Homo sapiens: one gene and its partner. The protein of the gene in region 2 purifies or fractionates together with the protein of the main gene of each other region. This does not show direct contact. Each region holds a gene or a part of one and is shown on either strand. Other genes may lie near its edges.

The links.
Region 1: the proteins of AAK1 (region 2) and WNK1 purify together in Homo sapiens (affinity purification with mass spectrometry; 2 studies listed by BioGRID and IntAct, with this or other methods). This does not show direct contact.

Annotation. Positions count from the first base shown.
Region 1 is NC_000012.12:879,492-891,131, forward strand, and holds part of WNK1 (serine/threonine-protein kinase WNK1), read left to right. Parts: intron 1-81; coding exon 82-540; intron 541-1,229; coding exon 1,230-1,508; intron 1,509-2,200; coding exon 2,201-2,298; intron 2,299-2,419; coding exon 2,420-2,582; intron 2,583-3,451; coding exon 3,452-3,568; intron 3,569-3,903; coding exon 3,904-4,077; intron 4,078-4,282; coding exon 4,283-4,340; intron 4,341-4,629; coding exon 4,630-4,752; intron 4,753-5,157; coding exon 5,158-6,593; intron 6,594-7,729; coding exon 7,730-7,813; intron 7,814-9,648; coding exon 9,649-9,732; intron 9,733-10,961; coding exon 10,962-11,022; intron 11,023-11,640. UniProt on the Homo sapiens protein: Serine/threonine-protein kinase component of the WNK1-SPAK/OSR1 kinase cascade, which acts as a key regulator of blood pressure and regulatory volume increase by promoting ion influx.
Region 2 is NC_000002.12:69,640,538-69,652,251, reverse strand, and holds the start of AAK1 (AP2-associated protein kinase 1), read left to right. Parts: upstream 1-8,512; 5' UTR 8,513-8,677; intron 8,678-8,977; 5' UTR 8,978-9,211; coding exon 9,212-9,374; intron 9,375-11,714.

The DNA of each region.
Region 1 (11,640 bases), on a different chromosome or scaffold from region 2:
ATCTTGCTTTTGGCAGCCTTGCTTTTTTTTTTTTTTTTTTTTTTTTAAGCCTGTCTGTTTTGTTTTTCTTTACCTTCCCAGCTTCCAGTTTCCCAGCCAGTACCAACTATCCAAGGCGAACCTCAGATCCCAGTTGCGACACAACCCTCGGTTGTTCCAGTCCACTCTGGTGCTCATTTCCTTCCAGTGGGACAGCCGCTCCCTACTCCCTTGCTCCCTCAGTACCCTGTCTCTCAGATTCCCATATCAACTCCTCATGTGTCTACGGCTCAGACAGGTTTCTCATCCCTTCCCATCACAATGGCAGCTGGCATTACTCAGCCTCTGCTCACGTTGGCTTCATCTGCTACAACAGCTGCGATCCCGGGGGTATCAACTGTGGTTCCTAGTCAGCTTCCAACCCTTCTGCAGCCTGTGACTCAGCTGCCAAGTCAGGTTCACCCACAGCTCCTACAACCAGCAGTTCAGTCCATGGGAATACCAGCTAACCTTGGACAAGCTGCTGAGGTTCCACTTTCCTCTGGAGATGTTCTGTACCAGGTATTGTGTTAGTTAGCAAAAGAGGGCACCACAGAGTTTGATCCTAGTAGATCATCAGGAACATGGAAATCTAATAGTTGAGTGTCAGAATAACTAGCAATAACATGTCAACTAGAGAAGCAAAATAGTAAAATTCTGAGAAAGGATTGGATAATGATGTTCAGTGATTCCTGATCCATTTTTCTCAAGACACTTCTTCAGAGAAAAATGGTTCTCTCAGTATTCACTGTAAGCTGATTGAATGCTAGATGTGGTTAATAGTACACCTGGCAACTTTTACATATATGGGTAGAATAAATAGAATAGCCAACATGGTATCAACAAAAAGCTTCGGGGTTTAGACTGGGAAAATTAGCATTTCATGATATGACTGTTATGTGGAAGAATTTTTGCATTTTTCCATTTAAGATTGGCTAGGAAGAAATTGTGTTCCTCCTATTTAAATCATCTCTAGGTGAAGATAACCGACAATAAAGTAGTATTGTAGAGTCCTGTCTCTTCTGTTGGAACCAGTCTACTACTTCATTTCAAGAATGTGGTCTTTATATGCCCTTTAGATTATTAGAAAGAGATTGGCTACTATTCTTCTTTGCTGTGTGCTTCTTTTTTTTTTTTTTGCATGTCTTGCTGTTTTGCTAATTTATTGACCCCCAACCTGCTCTAACTCACCTTCCTCATTTCTGTCACAGGGCTTCCCACCTCGACTGCCACCACAGTACCCAGGAGATTCAAATATTGCTCCCTCTTCCAACGTGGCTTCTGTTTGCATCCATTCTACAGTCCTATCCCCTCCCATGCCGACAGAAGTACTGGCTACACCTGGGTACTTTCCCACAGTGGTGCAGCCTTATGTGGAATCAAATCTTTTAGTTCCTATGGGTGGTGTAGGAGGACAGGTTCAAGTGTCCCAGCCAGGAGGGAGTTTAGCACAAGCCCCCACTACATCCTCCCAGCAAGCAGTTTTGGAGGTAAATAGAATTACTGCATGTTTATATGTAAAACGTATATATGTAATTGGACAACAATGATAAAGGAGAAAGAAACAGGCTCCCCTGGTTTAGAACTTATTTGGAGACCATGTCAAACTAACTTCTGCATGACTTTTTCTTACAGCAGAATGAAATGCCAATGTGGGGTCCTTGTTTCCACTGGCTGTTCTGTTGGGAAGTGAGTGTGCCTTGGAGAAGATGAACCCTATTAGCACTTCACTTCTCTAGCTAGTACTTTAGCCATTATTCTTGTCCTTTCACAAACTTTTTCCATTGGCAGTCATAAGAGTATCTTACCCTCCTGTGCTCTCAGCAATCATTTTTGCCCTGCTAGGAGAAGATCTGAATTCATCTTTGTACTATGCTCTGTCTGCGCTATTGCACACTCTTGGTAAGATGCTGGCTGCATGGCAAGTTGTAGGTTCACACTGCCTAGCAGATATGTTGGCTGACCTCATACCATGCAGTCTATACCAGAGACTAGCTTTAGCAACTTCCTTTGGAATTTTAAGACCATTATCTCTAGATGCTGAATATTGAGAATTTACTAGTAAATTTAGTGCTTCTAGGACGTAGTGGGGAGGGATAAGGAAAAAAATAAGTAGATTATTGGGGATAGTGAATGATAAATCTATTACTACCGAGATTTGAGTTATCTTTTCGATTCACAGAGTACTCAGGGAGTCTCTCAGGTTGCTCCTGCAGAGCCAGTTGCAGTAGCACAGACCCAAGCTACCCAGCCGACCACTTTGGCTTCCTCTGTAGACAGGTACGTAAAACTAGAATTCTCCTTCCTTGACTGGTAAATAAGACGGTATGAAACGCCAAACTGTCAGACCTTTAAATCTCATATTATAAACTGCACTTTTTTTTCTTTTTAAATTTCAAAGTGCACATTCAGATGTTGCTTCAGGTATGAGTGATGGCAATGAGAACGTCCCATCTTCCAGTGGAAGGCATGAAGGAAGAACTACAAAACGGCATTACCGAAAATCTGTAAGGAGTCGCTCTCGACATGAAAAAACTTCACGCCCAAAATTAAGAATTTTGAATGTAAGTATTCCTAATTTGTGAGTTTCATGTTGTTAAAGGAATTTGACACTGAAAAAGATTTTAGAGGTCATCAAATCCAAACCACTCACTTCATAAAATAAAGATAACTATCTGTGTGTGACAGATAATTTTTTTTTTTTTTAGACGGAGTCTCGCTCTGTCGCCCAGGCTGGAGTGCAGTGGCATGATCTCTTCTCACTGTGATTGCAGTGCCTCCTGGGTTCAAGCGATTCTCCTGCCTCAGCCTCCCAAGTAGCTGGGACTACAGACACGTGCCACCACGCACGGCTAGTTTTTGTATTTTTAGTAGAGACAGGGTTTCACCATATTGGTCAGGCTGGTTTCAAACTCCTGACCTCAGGTGACTCACCTGCCTCAGCCTCCCAAACCACTGGGATTACAGGCACCCAGCCAGATAATTTATATAGTACTCTTCTCATTTCATGCCCACAGTCTCTTTGACTTAAATATCACATTTTTAGAAAAATGAAAAGGTAGTTCATAAAGCTATGATAGGGCCAGCAGTTAATATCATTTAAATATTTCTTAAGGCTTAGATGAATTGATGAATGTATAGGATCTTATAATTAGCCAAATGATATTCTTACATTCCATATTTCTATGATAAAGCACTACTTATCTTTTAGAAAAAGAATAGAGAGTTTTAGTAAGTAGCTCAAAGGCTAACGTCTTCTCAAAGATTTTTCTTGCTACCAGTTTAAGAGACAAAGTACTAGTGCTCCAAGGAACAGCGATAACACTATGCTTCCTTAGACATAAAGTCAAGTGCTAATCTGCATTGCTTTTCTGAAATTCAGTAATAAAGCTGAATATGGTCTTTGGAGATGATGTACCTTTTTTCTTTTTAGGTTTCAAATAAAGGAGACCGAGTAGTAGAATGTCAATTAGAGACTCATAATAGGAAAATGGTTACATTCAAATTTGACCTAGATGGTGACAACCCCGAGGAGATAGCAACAATTATGGTACGTCTGCATTTGGAGTTCTAGGTTTTTCCTTAGTACTTGATCTTAATAGCCATTGCTCTAGGCAAATATGCCATATTTTATAATCCATGTTTTTTTAAAGTTATGCATTTACTTCAATGTGAATAAAACTATCACACCCAACCTGTGATTTAGTGATGTTTTTGTCTAGGCTATGTCTAACTAGATATTGAAGTTCTTAAAAAGAGAAGAGCTAACTTGAGTACAAAATAAATAAAAATATAGGTAAGTATGCAGATAGGACAGAAGTCATAAAAGTGACATAAAGTTTGAGAAATGACACTAATTAGACTGACATCACATTTCTTTTACAGGTGAACAATGACTTTATTCTAGCAATAGAGAGAGAGTCGTTTGTGGATCAAGTGCGAGAAATTATTGAAAAAGCTGATGAAATGCTCAGTGAGGATGTCAGTGTGGAACCAGAGGGTGATCAGGGATTGGAGAGTCTACAAGGAAAGGATGACTATGGCTTTTCAGGTTCTCAGGTAGGTTCACCACTCCCATAGTGAAACTTTGTTGATTTAAAATATTTTCATAGTTCTAAATTTGCTATGCAAAATGTCCAGTGATATCACCTGACACCCATGACCGACAACAAACTTTTATGTTCTCTTCACATGTGGCAGTTTGCTTTGCCTAGTCATTGAGATTGCATTTGAGAATGTATTTAATCACTTTTGTTTGTTGTAGAAATTGGAAGGAGAGTTCAAACAACCAATTCCTGCGTCTTCCATGCCACAGCAAATAGGTGAATTTATTTTCTTTCCTTGTTTTTACCTTTGACTTAAGAAGCCATTAGCCGAGGGTGGTGGCAGGCTTCTGTAGTCCCAGCTACTCAGGAGGCCGAGGCACGAGAATCGCTTGAACCCAGGAGGCGGAGGTTGCAGTGAGCTGAGATCGCGCCACTGCACTCCAGCCTGGGTGAGAGAATGAGACCGTGCCTCAAAAAAAGCAGTTGTATGTGCCAATAATGAAGTCTAACAATATTTATAATAATAATGCTATTAAGTTACGTTTGTTTGTTTGTTTTTGACCAGGCATTCCTACCAGTTCTTTAACTCAAGTTGTTCATTCTGCGGGAAGGCGGTTTATAGTGAGTCCTGTGCCAGAAAGCCGATTACGAGAATCAAAAGTTTTCCCCAGTGAAATAACAGATACAGGTAAGGGATTGATTCTGCCACATTGTTATGTAAATTCTACAGTGCCTCTGCTATGTTGAAAGCTTAATCATAAAGCAGTAATTTATGATGACACAGATAATAAAAAAGAATAGAAAACTGAAGTTATAACCAACAGATAAACATATGGGAGAGGGAAATAGATGAAGAATACAGAGAATTACAGAAAAAGCCAAGAAGCACGGCCATACCAAGATATAGTCTGTATAATAGATATTGTAGTATGTGTTTATTTCTGCACTTAGTACTGTTGTCTATGTTTTAAGATTACTCCATATTTTTTATCAAAAACAGATATTTATAGGAGCTGACTTAGGCTAGCAGACAATCTTTTGAATCCATCCTTTTAAAATCAGCTGATTCTTATCTTTTTGTATTCCTTTGCAGTTGCTGCCTCTACAGCTCAGAGCCCTGGAATGAACTTGTCTCACTCTGCATCATCCCTTAGTCTACAACAGGCCTTTTCTGAACTTAGACGTGCCCAAATGACAGAAGGACCCAACACAGCACCTCCAAACTTTAGTCATACAGGACCAACATTTCCAGTAGTACCTCCTTTCTTAAGTAGCATTGCTGGAGTCCCAACCACAGCAGCAGCCACAGCACCAGTCCCTGCAACAAGCAGCCCTCCTAATGACATTTCCACATCAGTAATTCAGTCTGAGGTTACAGTGCCCACTGAAGAGGGGATTGCTGGAGTTGCCACCAGCACAGGTGTGGTAACTTCAGGTGGTCTCCCCATACCACCTGTGTCTGAATCACCAGTACTTTCCAGCGTAGTTTCAAGTATCACAATACCTGCAGTTGTCTCAATATCTACTACATCCCCGTCACTTCAAGTCCCCACATCCACATCTGAGATCGTTGTTTCTAGTACAGCACTGTATCCTTCAGTAACAGTTTCAGCAACTTCAGCCTCTGCAGGGGGCAGTACTGCTACCCCAGGTCCTAAGCCTCCAGCTGTAGTATCTCAGCAGGCAGCAGGCAGCACTACTGTGGGAGCCACATTAACATCAGTTTCTACCACCACTTCATTCCCAAGCACAGCTTCACAGCTGTGCATTCAGCTTAGCAGCAGTACTTCTACTCCTACTTTAGCTGAAACCGTGGTAGTTAGCGCACACTCACTAGATAAGACATCTCATAGCAGTACAACTGGATTGGCTTTCTCCCTCTCTGCACCATCTTCCTCTTCCTCTCCTGGAGCAGGAGTGTCTAGTTATATTTCTCAGCCTGGTGGGCTGCATCCTTTGGTCATTCCATCAGTGATAGCTTCTACTCCTATTCTTCCCCAAGCAGCAGGACCTACTTCTACACCTTTATTACCCCAAGTACCTAGTATCCCACCCTTGGTACAGCCTGTTGCCAATGTGCCTGCTGTACAGCAGACACTAATTCATAGTCAGCCTCAACCAGCTTTGCTTCCCAACCAGCCCCATACTCATTGTCCTGAAGTAGATTCTGATACACAACCCAAAGCTCCTGGAATTGATGACATAAAGACTCTAGAAGAAAAGCTGCGGTCTCTGTTCAGTGAACACAGCTCATCTGGAGCTCAGCATGCCTCTGTCTCACTGGAGACCTCACTAGTCATAGAGAGCACTGTCACACCAGGCATCCCAACTACTGCTGTTGCACCAAGCAAACTCCTGACTTCTACCACAAGTACTTGCTTACCACCAACCAATTTACCACTAGGAACAGTTGCTTTGCCAGTTACACCAGTGGTCACACCTGGGCAAGTTTCTACCCCAGTCAGCACTACTACATCAGGAGTGAAACCTGGAACTGCTCCCTCCAAGCCACCTCTAACTAAGGCTCCGGTAAAATTATTGTTATAAAATAATTAGATAAATATGATCAGTTTTTTTTCTCCCTAATGAGTACATTTTTCACTTCAGCCTTGTAAGTTAGAAACATATTTATAAAGGTACCTGGCTTATAGTATTTATTAAATTGACAGCAGTTTGAGGGTATATCTACAATGAACATGAGATTTTTTTTTCAAGTGTGGCAGGATTTTAGGGTTAATTATGCTGCACAGTTTTCCAAGATGGTATAATTATCGGGTAAAATACAGGTATTTCTTCTGAATTGGTACAAACTGAAGAAGTCTGTATCCCAAAAGGGAGCTAAATGCATCTGTCAGCAAAATGTACGTAAATAATAGCAGTTCATAGTCTTTGTTTCAGTGAGAATGAAGCAAATTTTTGGTTTTGTTGTAGATTCCACAGTTGTACAGTTTGGGGGTTATAAAAAATTGGAAGTTAGTAAGGAAATTGATACAGAGGAGAAATAAATAATCTAATCCTAGGACTGAAGTAACTAAAATTTATTATCTAATTATGCTGTGGTGGATTTCCTCTTGTTCTGCCACCTTCTCCAAATAACAAGGCTGTGTTACGTCTACTGTATTGTATGCTTCAGCCTCTTTCTGCATTGCCATTGATGTGAGGTTCTTTTTATAGTAGGATAATGCAGAATCTTCACTCAGATAAAATAGAAATTCTTGATAATAGTATTAGATTTCTGATGCCTTTTGTTATCAGACCTGCCCATTGGTTATTTCTTAACCAGTTACTGTTTTCTTTTCTCAGAAAATCTTGTTTTACATGGCGAAAGTCTGATACATACTGTACCAAATAAGTAGCTCAAGAATATCTGGACACTGCCACTTATGTACATATAGCCTTTGTTCTGTTCTCCCTAGGGGACAACTTTTTACTGTATTTTACTATTCATTTTATAGGTATATCGTAGTAACCCCTATAATAACAACATTAGTTGTCACACCGTTTTTTTAAGACAGATACCAGAGAGTAACCTCAGTGATAAACATGTCTTAACTATATATATTTTATTCTTATGTTTGTGCATTCAAATTAGTTGATTTGCTCTTCAGTACGCAGTCTTTATATTTAGCGTCTCACGGACTTGATTTTCCCTTTGTTGTCTGTAGGTGCTGCCAGTGGGTACTGAACTTCCAGCAGGTACTCTACCCAGCGAGCAGCTGCCACCTTTTCCAGGACCTTCTCTAACCCAGGTGCCTCAAGACTTGACAAATTTCTTCCTGTGCCCTACTTTCTTTGACAAAGCTTGCTGAAGTTCTCCACTACGTGGTCTTGGCTTTTGCCTATTTGTCTTTGACTTAGTAACACCTTTCTTTTAAAATGTTATAACCAATGACCCAGTTCCTACTTAAGTAAGAAGCTTCATAGCTCTTTTGTTTGTAATGTTGCTTCCGGTTATCCAAAAACACTTGATACTAATTTTTTTTTTATATCTTATGAAGGAAGAAAACAGCAAAGCAAACATTTTGTCAGACCCATATAGCTCCCTTTATCACTCACACTTCTGTAGAATAGCGAAATTGCGTATATAATCAAAATTAACTTTGAGAGTGCCCTAGAAAGGAGAAGCACAATATGGCAACTGAGAAACTTTTTCCGCGAGTCCAGAGCAACCAGTCTCTTCTTGAATGTTGATCATTTCTTTCACTAGCCACCTAATGAAGGAATTAGCTTACTTATAGGTAGGTATAGGGGTGATGTTTCATGAAAACTATGTGTGCTGTCTCTTTTAAAATAAAAGCCACCGAGCTCAGTGAGATGCTAACATTATGAGATCACTCATGGAGGAACTGAGACCAGCCTCATGAACTTGAGATTCCCATCTCACACAGTTCTGCTCACTTGAGTGCAGTGGTGGACAGAATTACCTGTAATATTTATTATTTCTCTTTCCCACCGCAGTCCACCGCCAACACATTTGTTGAATTTCCATAAGAAAAGTACTAATTGTGAATCTGTTGTGACCAGGAAAAATCTTCTGACATGAGACAAGCCAGTAAACTTTTAAACTAAATTAGGAATTTATTTTTGAATCATATATAAGAAATAAGAAAAACATGGTAAATTGCTTACTTGAGAAGCTGAGTTGGAATTTATCCCTATTTCTTTGGTCCCAATGTACAGGGGAACACTATTTGAGGAACTTGCCACAATGAAGTAAAAACCCCAACAGAGAAAGCACTCCATCAGCCACCACATTTGGGGGAAAGTGCATTGTGAAAGTCCGTAAATCAGGAGTTAGAAAATTAGTTTTAAACTTATTTTCTCATTTAAAAACATGGATTCAGATTTCTAAGGGAGTATAAAGTGTGACAAAAAATAGCAAGTGAGACATGTGGAGGGGTAAGGGTAAATAGCTAGTGCCTAGATAGAGGGAAAGGCCTAAGCAAAGACTGTGCAAGAATAGATTGATAGAAGCCAAGACAGATGTAGGATTAGACTGTGGAAGGGTAGAAGGAAGCTGTGTGCTTGCGGTGGATGGAATGGTTAACAGGATGGAATACCCAGACCTCCTTGCCACCATCTGTAGGGAAGAAGTATACATGTAAGAAAGAGGAAAATAATACCCTGTGATAGTGACAGAATATGTTAATGCCATCTTTTATTCATAGGGGCACCTTCCCAGAAAGATGTATAAAACTGAGAAAGAAAAGAGGGAACATGAGATACAGTGAATCTACCAGTAGATCTTTGTACATTTTTCACAATATATTTTAAAGGTCGCACAAATAAATAACTCTTTCTACCGTTTTGAGTAACATCAAACATAGAATGTAATAAGACTTCTCTTAAACTGCAAAAACATGAACTACTCTGAGCCTTGAGAGTCTGACATACAATCTTGAGAAACTGGCAAAATAATCAAAGCAGTACACTAAATTTGAGTATAGTTTTGTATGTTCCATAAAGACAAATGTTATGTTGTGCCAATATAAAGCATAAAACAGTGTGTCCTATCTAAATTGGCTATATATCGTGACTCTGAAGGTGCCACGGAACTGTATTTACTGTGATTGTTTTCATTCAGTCCCAGCAACCTCTAGAGGATCTTGATGCTCAATTGAGAAGAACACTTAGTCCAGAGATGATCACAGTGACTTCTGCGGTTGGTGTAAGTTTTGAAAATCTTGATAAAATCTCCTCATAACCCTAATATATTATATGCCTGGGACACAAACTGTAACCTAAACCATTATTAATACCTTTAACATGTATTCAGAGTTCCTGCTTATTCTAGCCAAAAGAAATGAGACTGATTAATGAAAGATTCATGCTGACTCAGGAGTATCACTATGGAAAAGATTTTATTTGAAAGGTGCTTTTTTAGTTGTACGTCTGGTCAGATTGTGCCATAGATCAATTCTATGGATTTCGTATTTTTGTTTCAGAGGAGGCTAAATTTTGTCAGATAAAATAATGTTTTGGGCTAGGTGCAGTGGCTCACGCCTGTAATCCCAGCACTTTGGGAGGCCGAGGCGGGCGGATCACAAGGTCAGGAGATCGAGACCGTCCTGGCTAACACGGTGAAACCCCATCTCTAGTAAAAATACAAAAAATTATCCAGGTGTGGTGGTGCACGCCTGTAGTCCCAGCTACTCGGGAGGCTGAGGCAGGACAATGGCGTAAAACCCAGGAGGCAGAGCTTGCAGTGAGCCGAGATTGCACCACTGCAGTCCAGCCTGTGTGACAGAGCGAGACTCCATCTCAAAAATAATAATAATGTTTTGATTGAAACTGTTTTTCTGTGAATATCCAAGTTATACCCTTAAGCATCCTATGAGAAAAATTAAGAAAGCAATCAAGAATTAAGAGTAGAAATTCATTCTTTTAAAATGTACCTTTTTTTTTTTTTTTTTTGAGACAGGAGTCTTGCGCTGTTACCCAGGCTGTAGTGCAGTGGCACGATCTTGGCTCACTGCAACCATCACCTCCCAGGTTCAAGTGATTCTTCTACCTCAGCCTCCCGAGTAGCTGGGATTACAGGTGCCCGCCACCACACCCGGCTAATTTTTGTGTTTTTATTAGAGGCGGGGTTTCGCCATGTTGGCCAGGCCGGTCTCGAACTCCTGACCTCAAATGATCTGCCCACCTTGACCTCCCAAAATGCTGGGATTACAGGTGTGAGCCACCATGCCTGGCCCTAAAAGGTGCCTTTCTTTACATCAGACTTTTAGACTTTAAAAGAAAAAGGAAAGAAGATAAAATGTTCTCAGACATAAGTGTTTCATCACATATACTGTCTTTCTGCCCTTTTACAAAGACCATAGGAAAGGCAACGAGGCAAAAGTTTGAGTGACTGAAGCTAAAGATTTGTGGTGTCTGTCTGTGTGTGTTTTACAGCCTGTGTCCATGGCGGCTCCAACAGCAATCACAGAAGCAGGAACACAGCCTCAGAAGGGTGGTGAGAAACATCCTTCCTCCTTTTATATTACTAATTCCAGCCCTACCCGTAGTTGATTCAGGAGGTTTACCGTTTCAAAGACACATTTCCACGTATTTGATAACTGAGGAGCATTGGTAGTAATATCTAAAGCTTGAAAGATTAGCAAATTAATAAATCTGTTCCGTTATTATTTGTCAGAGGAAAGGTTATACAGGAGGTAATGATAAGACCCTTCATTATTAGCTATGCCAGATCCTTGCTATTAGAGATTAGGAAATTAAAGCATACTGTATTTAGAAAAGTAAATTTACTGATAACCTCTTAGCTTTTGTGACACTGGATATATAGGGATAGAAGCTTGAATAGTCTGGACATATATTTGTATTGAAATACAAATGTAAGATTTCAGTTAATCAATTTAAACATTTTTATTTTCAAGGCAATTATATTCTCAATTGGCTCTCATTTTAAAAGTGATTTGCAAATCATTAGAATGGTCTAGAAATGGAAAAATGAAAGGGGAATGTAGATTATCAAAATATGTAGAGTATCAAGTATGTACAATGAAAATAATAAAGATTACTACCAATAAAAAGAGAATGTAGAATATGAAAAAGGTAGCTTTTCAAATCATTG
Region 2 (11,714 bases):
AGTGGATCATTTGAGGTGAGGAGTTCGAGGCCAGGCTTGCCAACATGGCAAAACCCTGTCTCTACTAAAAATACAGAAAATTAGCTGGGCATAGGCCTGTAGTCCCGGCTTCTTGGGAGGCTGAGGCAGGAGAATCTGTTGAACCTGGGAGGCAGAGGTTGCAGGGAGCTGAGATTGTGCCACTGCCCTCTAGCCTGGGTGATAGAGTGAGACTCCATCTAAAAAACAAAAAACAAAACTACTTTATGTTTGCAATAAAAATTCAATAAAAAGGCCGAGAATATGGGGGTTTACGCCTGTAATCCCAGCACTTTTGGAGGCTGAGGCAGGATTGCTTGAACCCAGGAAGTTGAGGCTGGAATGAGCTGAGATCACGCCACTGCACTCCAGCCTGGTCAACAGAGTGAGACTCTGTCTCCCCGCCCCCCCCCCCCAAAAAAAAAAAAAAAAAGCCGGGCGCGGTGGCTCACGCCTGTAATCCCACCACTTTGGGAGGCCGAGATGGGGGGATCACGACGTCAGGAGATTGAGACCATCTTGACTAACATGGTGAAACGCTGTCTCTACTAAAAATACAAAAAATTAGCTGGGCGTGGTGGTGGGAGCCTGTAGTCCCAGCTACTCCGGAGGCCGAGGCAGGAGAATGGCGTGAACCCGGGAGGCGGAGCTTGCAGTGAGCCGAGATTGCGCCACTGCACTCCAGCCTGGGCGACAGAGCGAGACTCTGTCTCAAAAACAACAACAACAACAACAAGACAAATGGATACTAAAAAACAGGTAATATATGAAGTATACAGATTGAGGTAAAAAGGAAGAGCTGGCAGTAAGGCAAGTAAGAATCAAAAGAAACTAGACAAGGTAATGAAAATCTCTAAGAAAACAAAAATACGTCTTGCTCTGTCCCCTAGGGTGGAGTGCAGTGGTGTGATCATAGTTTACTGCAACCTCAAGTTCCTGGGCTGAAGCAATCCTCTCGCCTCATTCTCCCAAGTGGGTAGGACTCTAGGCACATGGAACCATGCCTGGCTAACATCCTCACCTGTTCTTTTCCTCATCTGTTTGTTTTGCACCATATTGTTTAGTACATGGTAGTTCACTACATACTGATTGAATAAAGGAACACTCTCAAATCAATTCTTAAAAATAAATGCTCCAATGGAAAAATGGAAGAGGATACAATTTAGAAATGAAGAAATATACACAACCAATAATTACTACATTATAAACTCTGTGAAGGAAAACACATGTCCATCTTCTTTATCATATTTCCAGTGCCTAGCATTGTTTTGGTATATAACAGATTCTTAATAAACAACTGATGAATAAATAAATGAACAAGAAAAATTGTTCAGCCTCACTAATTTAAACAATGACAACAAAAAACACCATTCCTACCTAACAAAATGAAATCGATTTCTTTTTAAACTGCACAAACTCAGTGCTGGCAAGGGTATGGAAATACTTAGGATTTAATGCCTTCTTTTAAGATCAAAAGCTCTAGCTGGGCACAGTGGCTATGCCTGTAATCCCAAGCCTTTGGGAGGCCGAGGGAGGAGGATTGCTTGAGGCCAGGAGTTCAAGATCAGACTAGGCAACATAGAAACACCCTGTCTCTACAAAAAATTAAGAAATAATTAGCTGGCTGTGGTGCTGTGCACCAGTTATACAGGAAGCTGAGGTGGGTGGATCCCTTGAAAGCCTCAGGTTATGATCATGCCACTGCACTCCAGCCTGGGTGACAGAGCAAGACCCTGTCTCAAAGAAAAAAAAAAGGATACAAAAACCACCAAAAGCTCCTTGAAGGCAAGGAGTGTAACTATTTTGTTTATTGTAATAAACTTTCTAAAGTCTAGCACATGGTGCTTAATAAATATTTGTTTACTGGATCAGTGAATGGAGAACAAATCAATATCAATCTCCTGGAGGGTACTTTGGCTCTCTAGCTGTAAAAACATTCATACCTTTTGACCTAATTATTCCATTTATAACAACGTAGCCTTAGAAAGAAAATCATGGGGCCAAGCACGGTGGCTCATGCCTGTAATCCCAGCACTTTGGGAGGCTGAGGTGAGTGGATCACCTGAGGTCAGGAGTTCAAGACCAGCCTGGCCAACATGGTGAAACCCTGTGTCTACAAAAAATACAAAAATTAGCCGGGCATGATGGCGGGTGCTTGTAATCCCAGCTATTCAAGAGGCTGAGGTGGGAGAATCTCTTGAACCCGGGAGGTGGTGGCTGCAGTCAGCCGAGATTGTGCCATTACACTCCGGCATGGAAGACAGAGTGAGACTCCGTCTCAAAAAAAAAAAAAAAAAAAAAAAAAAAAATCAGGCCAGGCACAGTGGCTCACACCTTTAATCCCAGCAGTTTGGGAGGCTGATGCGGGTGGATTGCTTGAGTTCAGGAGTCCAAGACCAGCCTCGGCAACATGGTGAAACCCTGTCTCTACAAAAATAAAAAAATAAAAAAATAAAAAGCCAGACGTGGTGGTGTGAGCCTGTAGTTCCAGCTACTCAGAAGGCTAAGGTGAGAGGATTGCTTGAGCCCAGGAGGTCGAGGCTGCAGTGAGCTGAGGTTGTGCCACTGCACTCCAGCCTGGGCGGTAGGGCGAGACACTGTCTTAAAAAAAAAAAAAAAAAAAAAAAAAAGAAAGAAAATCAAAGAAGCACACAAGAGAATACAAGAGAATATTCATTCTAATCATATAAAAAGTAACATTTAAAAATAAAACATTTGACAGTAAAGCACTGATTACTAAGCAACTACTAAAAGAATATTTTTAGAGAATATACAATGAAATAGGAAACTATGGAATGAAAAAAATAAAATATAAATATATAATGTGATCTAATATAGTAAAAAAGGTACTTATATATGGAAACATGCTAAAAGGAAATTGATCAAAATGTCAATAGCAATTATCGCTGAGTGGTAGAATTATAGCTGATTTTTATTTTCTTCTATCTACTTTCTTCAATGAGCACATAATTACTTTCTTAAACAAAATCCAAAACCAAAATCAACTGGAAAATAAGAAGACAAGGCTCAGTTTAAAAGAGAAAATTAGGCTGGGCGCGGTGGCTCACACCTGTAATCCCAGCACTTTGGGAGGCTGAGGTGGGCAGATCACCTGAGGTTGAGAGCTCGAGACCAGCCTGACCAACATGGAGAAACCCCATCTCTACTAAAAATGCAAAATTAGCTAGGCGTGGTGGCACATGCCTGTAATCCCTGCTACTCAGGAAGGCTGAGGCAGGAGAATCGCTTGAACCTGGGAGGCGGAGGTTGCGGTGAGCCAAGATTGTGCCATTGCACTCCAGCCTGGGTAACAGAGCAAAACTCCATCTCAAAAAAAAAAAAAAAGAAAAGAAAGAAAGAAAATTAAAAATTAAAAAAATCAAGAAACGTCTTTTTTTTTTTTTTTTTTTTTTGAGACTGAGTCTTACTCTGTCTCCCCAGATGGAGTGCAGTGGTGCACTCTCGGCTCACTGCAAGCTCCGCCTCCTGGGTTAAAGTGATTCTCATGCCTCAGCCTCCCGAGCTGGTATTACAGGTGCATGCCACCATGCCCGGCTAATTTTTGTATTTTTAATAGAGACGGGGTTTCACCATGTTGGCCAGGCTGGTCTTGAAGTCCTGACCTCAAGTGATCCACCTGCCTCGGCCTCCCAAAGTGTTGGGATTACGGGCATGAGCCAGCATGCCTGGGCAAGAACTGTCATTTTTTTAAAAAGGACATGGTTCTTACAAGTTCGCTTCTGCTAAACAGTGGTTCTCAAACTTGAATGTGTATTAGAATTACCTGAAAGGTTTGTGAACAGAAACTGCTGCCTCTGCCCCTCCCTCTTACTCAGTAGGTCTGGATGGGGCCCCAAAATTTGCATTTCTAACAAGTTCCACTTCGCTAAAAGACGGCAACATAGAAAGCCCATATGGTGTAATGAAAATGATGTGGGTTTTGAGGTCAGTCTTGGCTCTGCCCTTTTTAAGATGTTTTGTAGAAATAGTTGACAGACTCTAATCCTGCTCAGCCTCTGTTTCCACACCAATAAAAGTAATGCACACTTCATAGATGTATTGTGAGGGTTAAATGGTATGATTAAATACCCAACATAGTGCTTGACTCAGTTAAGGATTTTAATTAATGGTGGTCCCCTTTCCTTTGATTTCCTCAAAGATACAGCACACTGGGTTTATGGTAACATGATTTAGGTGTACCACAGGTCAAATCATTTCCTTCAAACTTAACAAACCATACATGTTCATCTGCTACTAACAAAATCTTCATTGTTCATCTATAAAATTGGGAATAATAGTGTAACAGTATTTTCTTTGATAAAATAGATAATACTGTCTACTTTGTAGGCAACCATGAAGATTAAATAAAATAATATCAGTCAGGCACGGTGGCTCACATCTGTAATCTCAGCACTTTGGGAGGCTGAGGTGGGAGGATCACCTGAGTCCAGGAGTTTGAGGTCAGCCTGGGCAACAAAGCAAGACCCCATCTCTATTTTTTATATAATTATTTTTTTTAAAAAGTGGCTGGGCGTGGTGGCTCATGCCTGTAATCCCAGCATTTTGGGAGGCCAAGGTGGGTGGATGGCCTGAGCTCAGGAGTTCAAGACCACCCTGGGCAACATGGTGAAACCCTGTCTCTACTAAAATACAAAAAATTAGCCAGGCATGGTGGCACACACCTGTAGTCCCCGCTACTCGGGAGGCTGAGGCACAAGAATCGCTGGAGCCTGGGAGGCAGAGGTTGCAGTGAGACGAGATCACGCCACTGCACTACAACTTGAGCTACAGAGTGAGACTCTGTCTCAAAAAATAAATAAATAAATAAATAAATAAATAAATAAAATAAAAATAAAACAATAAAACAATATATATATATTTTTTAAATTCCATAACTGGCATATGGAAGATACATAGTGTTAACTGAAGAATCCCAAGGTTTATAAATTTGGAGAGGGGAGCTTTACTTTTTATAAAGGGTTGCAGCCTGCAGGCTGGTGATCCTGACAGGCTGGGAAGTGTAGACTCTGGCAGAGACTGAAAGCAGGTATTTAGAGGGAGGAAAAAGTGGAACACAAATTTATGCCAAATGAGTTGGCTAAGAATACACACTTAAGTTACAGGAGCTTTGATTATTCACAAAGCGGGGGGCAGCACATGCATGCATAGTGAGCAAACATGCATGTTACATATGTCCTATGTTCTCTTTGGGGTGGAGATTTAACATTTAAATGCATTACAATTAGGTGAAGCAAAGGACATGAAGACACTCAGTGCACAGCCTCTGAAAACCAGCCAGAACCAGTCTGTGGTTGGTAGTCTCTTACTAGGATGTTACTGAAATCAGTCTCTTGTCCAATCAAAGAAATAGTTATGGTTTGTGGAACAGGGGTTGGGGGGATACAGTTAGTCAGCATCTAGTGGTCAGTGAGCTACAATTGATTCAATATTGCTTATCTCCAGGCCAGTGTCTATTTAGCTACCAGAGAAAAAGAAAAACCTTGTGGCAGTTAGAAGATGGTTTACTCTTCAAGTGTAGGGATGTGTGACTTAACCCTTGCCTGACACAGCCTTAGGTCTTGTTTATAATTTGGCATCTTATTGCCTCAAAGAGTCTGTTCCATCGGTCATATGATCACTATTGTAACAATAGTAAATGGCACTTTCTTTTCCCACTCCCTTTGACTATTTACCCATAGCATCTTCCACACCTAGTTCAAAATTCATCTAGGATACTTCAAATCAATCTTTCCACCTTAATCAGATAGCTCTGTTTTGTGTCACATTTAAAGTAAATTATTTACTTTAAGTACTGCTAAGAACACACTCTATGTAAACTATTATACTGGATGCCCAAGGAGATAAGTAGAAGATGGTTCTCTGGCTTTGAGGTGTTTGGTTGAGACAGCAATATACATTAAAAGTTGAACAGGAATGCAAAGCAGCATGGGACAAATTATACAGAAAGTGTGATAGTTTTGAGATTATAGTGGCTGATCTGTTCATTATTTTGTACTCAGGAACTAAAAAATTACTAAGAGTTGTAAGAGCTCTGGTTTTATAGCTGAGATAATAAGCCCAGTGACACAAGTGGTCTAGGATCCCAGCTATGAAGTGGCAAGAGGTTTCCTGTCTCCTGGTCCTATGCTGCTTGTGCGTGGGTTTCTAACTATTCACGAGTCTTTTAATCAGTTAATGTTTGCTCTCTCTAAGTAGACAGTTTAGTATAGCCAGGTAAGAACTGGGCTTTGAAACTAAAATGTTTGGGTTTGAATCCTGGCTTTGCTATTTACTGTGTGACTTTGGGCAAGTCACTAATCTCTTTGCTTTACTTACCCACCTATAAAATGAGTATAATAATGGTACTTTACTTCATAGGGTGGTTGTGAGCATTATATACTTAATATATGTAAAGCATGAAAAACTGTGGATTTGTCATTATAATTGCTATTAGTCTGTGAGGGAATGGAGGGCAAGGAATCTAGTCATGTTTTTTGTTTTTTAAACCTCTTCCCTCAGCTTCTGATCAGAGCATTCACGTGGGTGTTAAATAAATGCATGTTAGCTACCTTAAGCATATTGGGAGTTTTTGTATCACTGAAGTAAGACTTGAGATTTGTGTAAGCCTGGACTAGTCTGGTACCAGAGAAGTCTAGAAAGGTAAAAACTGAGATAGCATCAGATTGATTTTAGGACCTAGCACAGCTTGTTTAAAAAAGTCAGTCAAGACAAATAAGTGCTGAGAGAAATGGGGGTCAATGAGTCTAATTCCAAATGAGCTTTCTCATCTATTTTAAGATCTGCTTCAAACTTCCTCAGACAAAAATCTGGCCTTTTAAGGAAAGTGCAGAGAACATGCCTTCGTGGGCTTAGTTTGAGGGAATAGGGGCTGCATTTCACCCTGGAGGTGGCTACATGAATTCGTGAACTGAGGTGACAACACTGACTCTCTCCGGAAGAAAAGATGCTATCTCTTCACGGAGTTTAATTACAATGGCACTACTTGAAACAAGCTGCAGCAGCAGCAACAACAAACGCTACTGTTAACCCAGTCACAGCTCAGCTCAATATTCAGATTAGAGAAAGCAAGAACCATTTTTTTCCCTGGGACACCCTTCTCTACTCAAATACCCGCTGAAAAAAAAATTCTGAGACAAGCACTAGGGAGTGGGGAAAGCGGGCAGAGATGAACAATAACCCATATTCAGGGGTTAGAAAAATAATATTAATAAATCATGGTAGGTTTTTTTGTTTGTTTTTGGCAGCAACTTGCCACTCTTCAGCATCATCCATCAGGAAATCTAGGTCGGAAAAGTGTACCAACTGACCTTCCAAATTTTCTGCATTTGGCAGATGCAAATCACACAGTCCATCCCCGCCCTCAGCACTTGGACGGTATCAGGGAAACGTAAGTATCAATGGAAGAATCTTGAAGTGAAAAATAAATAACTGGTCAGGTTAGGGTTAGTGTTCTTGTGTGCAAGGGAGCTAGTGAAGTTTAGGCTTTGATGCGCACCCACAGCGTCAGCAAAGGAGGAGGAATTAAGGGACAGCATGGGCCGAAAAGCCCCCGAGTTTTGAGGTCAAGCCAACGGGCTGGGTCTCCGGTATCCTAGGATCTGCCCTGCACACAACCTTTGGCAGTTTCTCGGTTTGAATCTCGCCTGTACATTTCCAGACGAGACACTGTCTTACTGAGCGTTCTCACAGCGCCTAGCTCAGAGCTGACCGCAGAGCCGGCTCTCAATAACATCGAGACGCAAAAGCAGCTTTTGAGGTTAGGGGCGGAAGGGCATCGGTTTTACTTATTTCAAGGCTGGCGCTCGGTGCAGCCGGATCCAACTGCCAGCACAATGTTCCCGATCACTTCTCGCTTCCATTTCAGCCCAGGAGACGTCGGGAAACCCACAGGACCCGCTAGGGGCTAAGCGGTTAAGCCGCGTCCTTCAGGTGTCAGTCTCGATCCGTTCGGAAACCACAACCTCCAGAATCCCTTGTGCCAGGAGGCCAGGCCGCAAATAAGATGGCTCCAGAAGGGTGGAACATACAGCGGGGGGGGGGGGGGGGGAACTTAGTTGTTGGCAGTTTCTTCACGGGATGTGTTTAAATTGCCGAGTCCCCACATACGCGCCACCCCACAAATCTCCTTCGAGGCCGTGGAGGCCACACGGCTGCCGCCTCGCCCTCTCCTCCAGGAGTATGCTGGGATTTGTAGTCCAGCAGCCGGACTGTGCCGAGCTACCTTTCCCAGCTTGCCCTGCGGCTCGGGTGATATCAACAGTCTTTTCCAGAACTCTGTCTGCACTGAGACCCTCTTCCCCCAGTCCTCTTCTCGCGGTCGACTCCTTCCCATCCGTGGCGACAGAACGGCGGTTGCAGGAGAGGCCCCGGTCCCTCGCCGCGCCGCCCCGAGGGGCACTTCCGGCGGCGGTTCACTTCCTGGTTGGGTGGATGGAGCCGGGCGGGAGCGCGCGCGGGGGAGGGGCGGCGGGTCAGTCTCCGCCCGGCGCTCCCGGGATCAGCTGGCGGGCGGGCGGGAGCCGAGCGCGGCCCCGGCTCTCGCTGCAGCGCCGCCTCTTCTCTGCGTCGCAGGCCGGCCCGGCGGCCGTGACAATGTCGCGGGGCTGGTAGCAGGGCGCCGGCCGCCGAGCCGTCTCAAGTGGGTGCTGCCAGGATGCCGCCTCGAGGGGCGGCGGGGAGACCCGGGAGGAGCGGGAGGCAGTGCCCGGGAGGGTCGGCGCTGCCGGAGCAGCTCGGATCCCTCCTTTCTCCGAGCTCCCGGCTCGGGGGTCCCGGGTTCTGGGGCCGGGGTCGCGTTTTCAGCCCCACGGTTTTTCTCGCCGGGAAAATACATGAAGCGTTTCCCCAGGATGATGGCTTTTGCTCCCCCTAGGACTCAGCGGTTGAATTTTTAAGCGTGTTACTGATTCATCCTCTCTTTCTTCCTCTGTCATCACAGGTTTAAACTTACACGAATCGCTTTCTGGAGGAGGAGGGGACCCGCTGCGCGATTGACACGCATATTCCTATAGGCATCCTCCCTCAGCCCCCACCCCCACGGCCGGATTCGGGTGGCTCCTCTCCGAGGTGAAATCTGAGAAGAAATCCTTGGATCTCTTTTCTTAAAAAAAAAAAAAAAAAAAAAAAATCTAGAAACCATCGGTATTTTGCTTTGCTGCTCCCTATTCGCAAGATGAAGAAGTTTTTCGACTCCCGGCGAGAGCAGGGCGGCTCTGGCCTGGGCTCCGGCTCCAGCGGAGGAGGGGGCAGCACCTCGGGCCTGGGCAGTGGCTACATCGGAAGAGTCTTCGGCATCGGGCGACAGCAGGTCACAGTGGACGAGGTGTTGGCGGAAGGTACGGTGGGGCTCAATGCGCCGTAAATTAAAATCTTGTGCTGATGCGGCAATACTGTGGTTTCTAGTTGTTGCATGTATGAATGGGCTTTGACCAGTTGACCCTCCCTTCCCCCTTCACTTGCCCTGTGAGTCATTGTCCTTGAGAGATTTAAAATTGAGATTTGAAAGTGACTGGGCTTATGGGGGTGTGGGGAGGTTGCCGAAATTGTTTACGTTAGTGGCCTTTTATTTTTATTTTTTTAATATTGAGAAGCCAAATTTTGAGGATCACACAAGAAAACGTATGTGTGAAAGTGTAAAGCTTTATGCCAAAGGCAGGGTGATGGGCTTGTCATCCTCCTAAAACTTAAAATCTTGATGTGAAGGCTGAAGGGTGGGGGGACTTTTAAGAAGAGAGGGGTTTCTCCTTCTCCTACCCAACTTTCCCACTTCCATGAGCAGGCATTGGAAGGAAGAGAGGATTTTCGGAGAACGTGAACGTGTTTTTCCAAGGGCCAAGGCTCTTGGTGGATTTCACTAGTAGATTTGTTTCCTGACCCAACTGTAATCAGGTCCCCAGGTTATAGCAAAGATAACAGAAATTACATAAAACAAATGTGGTTATTTTGAACTCAGTCTAGTAGGCCCCTCTTCCTTCTCGCTTTAGGTTTTGTTTTTTGTTTTTTTAATCAAAAGAAAAATTACTTGAGAGTGGCTCTGATTTTGTTTTTTCGCTATCAGAGAGGATGTTATTTAGATCTGCTGCATAAATTCCCTCTGTGTTTCATCTGTGTGTCTATACTCACGTAGATATACATCTTGATTCCCCCAGGCTTTCGGGAAATCTTTGCATGTCTCTTTTGGTAACCTTAACCTCGACCTTCATAATTATGCCAGACTCATACTTTTCACAGCCCTTCGCCTGCCTAGTGTGCTTTTATTTTTAATAAAAGCAGCAATTTCCTTGGCATGAAGCAATTCAGACTGATTGGATGGGGCCAACCTGCTGTAGGTTGTGTTATAGACCGAGAGGGGTTGGAAGAAGGGAGAGGTCTCTCTTACTGCAACATGGTGATGGTAGGGAACAGTTTTATTAGCAAGGGAAGAGAGAAAGCTAAGAGGCCTCTTTAAAAAGGGGCCTTTTGCAAGCTAAAGTTGAAGCAAGGGTCCTGACCTGGGCCTGGGAAATGCTTACCATGGTGGATGTTGCGGGCTGGTGGGTGGGTTTGGAAGAGGAAGAAGCTGTGTTTGGCTCTCAGCTTGTGTAAGCACTGGATTCAGCAGGGCCCAGTTTTCTGGGAATAGAGTTGAAGTCTGTACTTTAAAAACATGATTTTTAAAAAAGATCTCTGACAGTTAATGTCCATGTGAAATTATTGCTCTTCCAATCTCAGTACTGTTCTAGCTGCGCTTTATCTGGGGCCAGAGTCACTGTCCCCTTGGATCTTTCCCGTGGACTTTGGTGCAGGCTAGGAGATGCTTCTGTGCCCGCTGCCAGATCCGCACCCTTGAGTCTGATCTGTCTCTTTCATCCCTGTGCCAAAGCCCTTAACTGCAGTGGGGTGGAGAAACAGTGAAAAGGAGAGTGTGTCAGAGAGAAATCAGGAGAAACGAAGGGCCACAGAACACTTTCCTCCCCTCTGAATGGCCTCTGCTGACCTTATAGCCCACGAGCGTTTTGTTCAGCTAGGATGTTGTCTCATCACGGATGATGCTGCCCTAAGCGGTGCATGTTCTCCAAGTGTGAGAGAAGTGATAGGGAAAAGAAAAGGCAAAATTGGTCTTTGTTACCTAGGCTGCCTTCCTCTTCTCTGGGATTCATCTTTGAGAACTGCGCATCACGTATTGTGATATTTTTACACAGAATTTAGGACTTGTAGCTCTGCATTTATTCATTCAACAGTTTATGGAGTTGCCTGTGAAGTGCCAGGTGCTGTGCTAGGCTCTGGGGGTATACTGTTAAACTAGATGCTAGCTTTTACCAACTGCTTTAAGAGATGGAAAATAGCCAGTTATAGTGGATTGGTAAATGCCATCATAGAGATAAACTTAGGGTGCAGTGGCCCCCAGTTTTAGGGAGCCCAGGATTTCTGAAGGAAGTGACTGAAGAGTGAGTAGGAGTTAGTGTGGTGGCACCATGGGCAAAGACAGAGTAGCGAGAGAGAATGTCACGTAAAACTGGGTCTGGCTATGCGCCCTTTTTGTGTTCTTTGGCTTAAGTTGAGTTTGAATTTGTGGCTCTTAGAAGTATGTAGATATGTAGGAGCCAGTATACAAAGTATTTATGTAGCACCTACCAAGTCCAAAGACCCTATGAAGTTCTGAGATGGATGAGGGAGGTCTATAGTGTGATTGACAT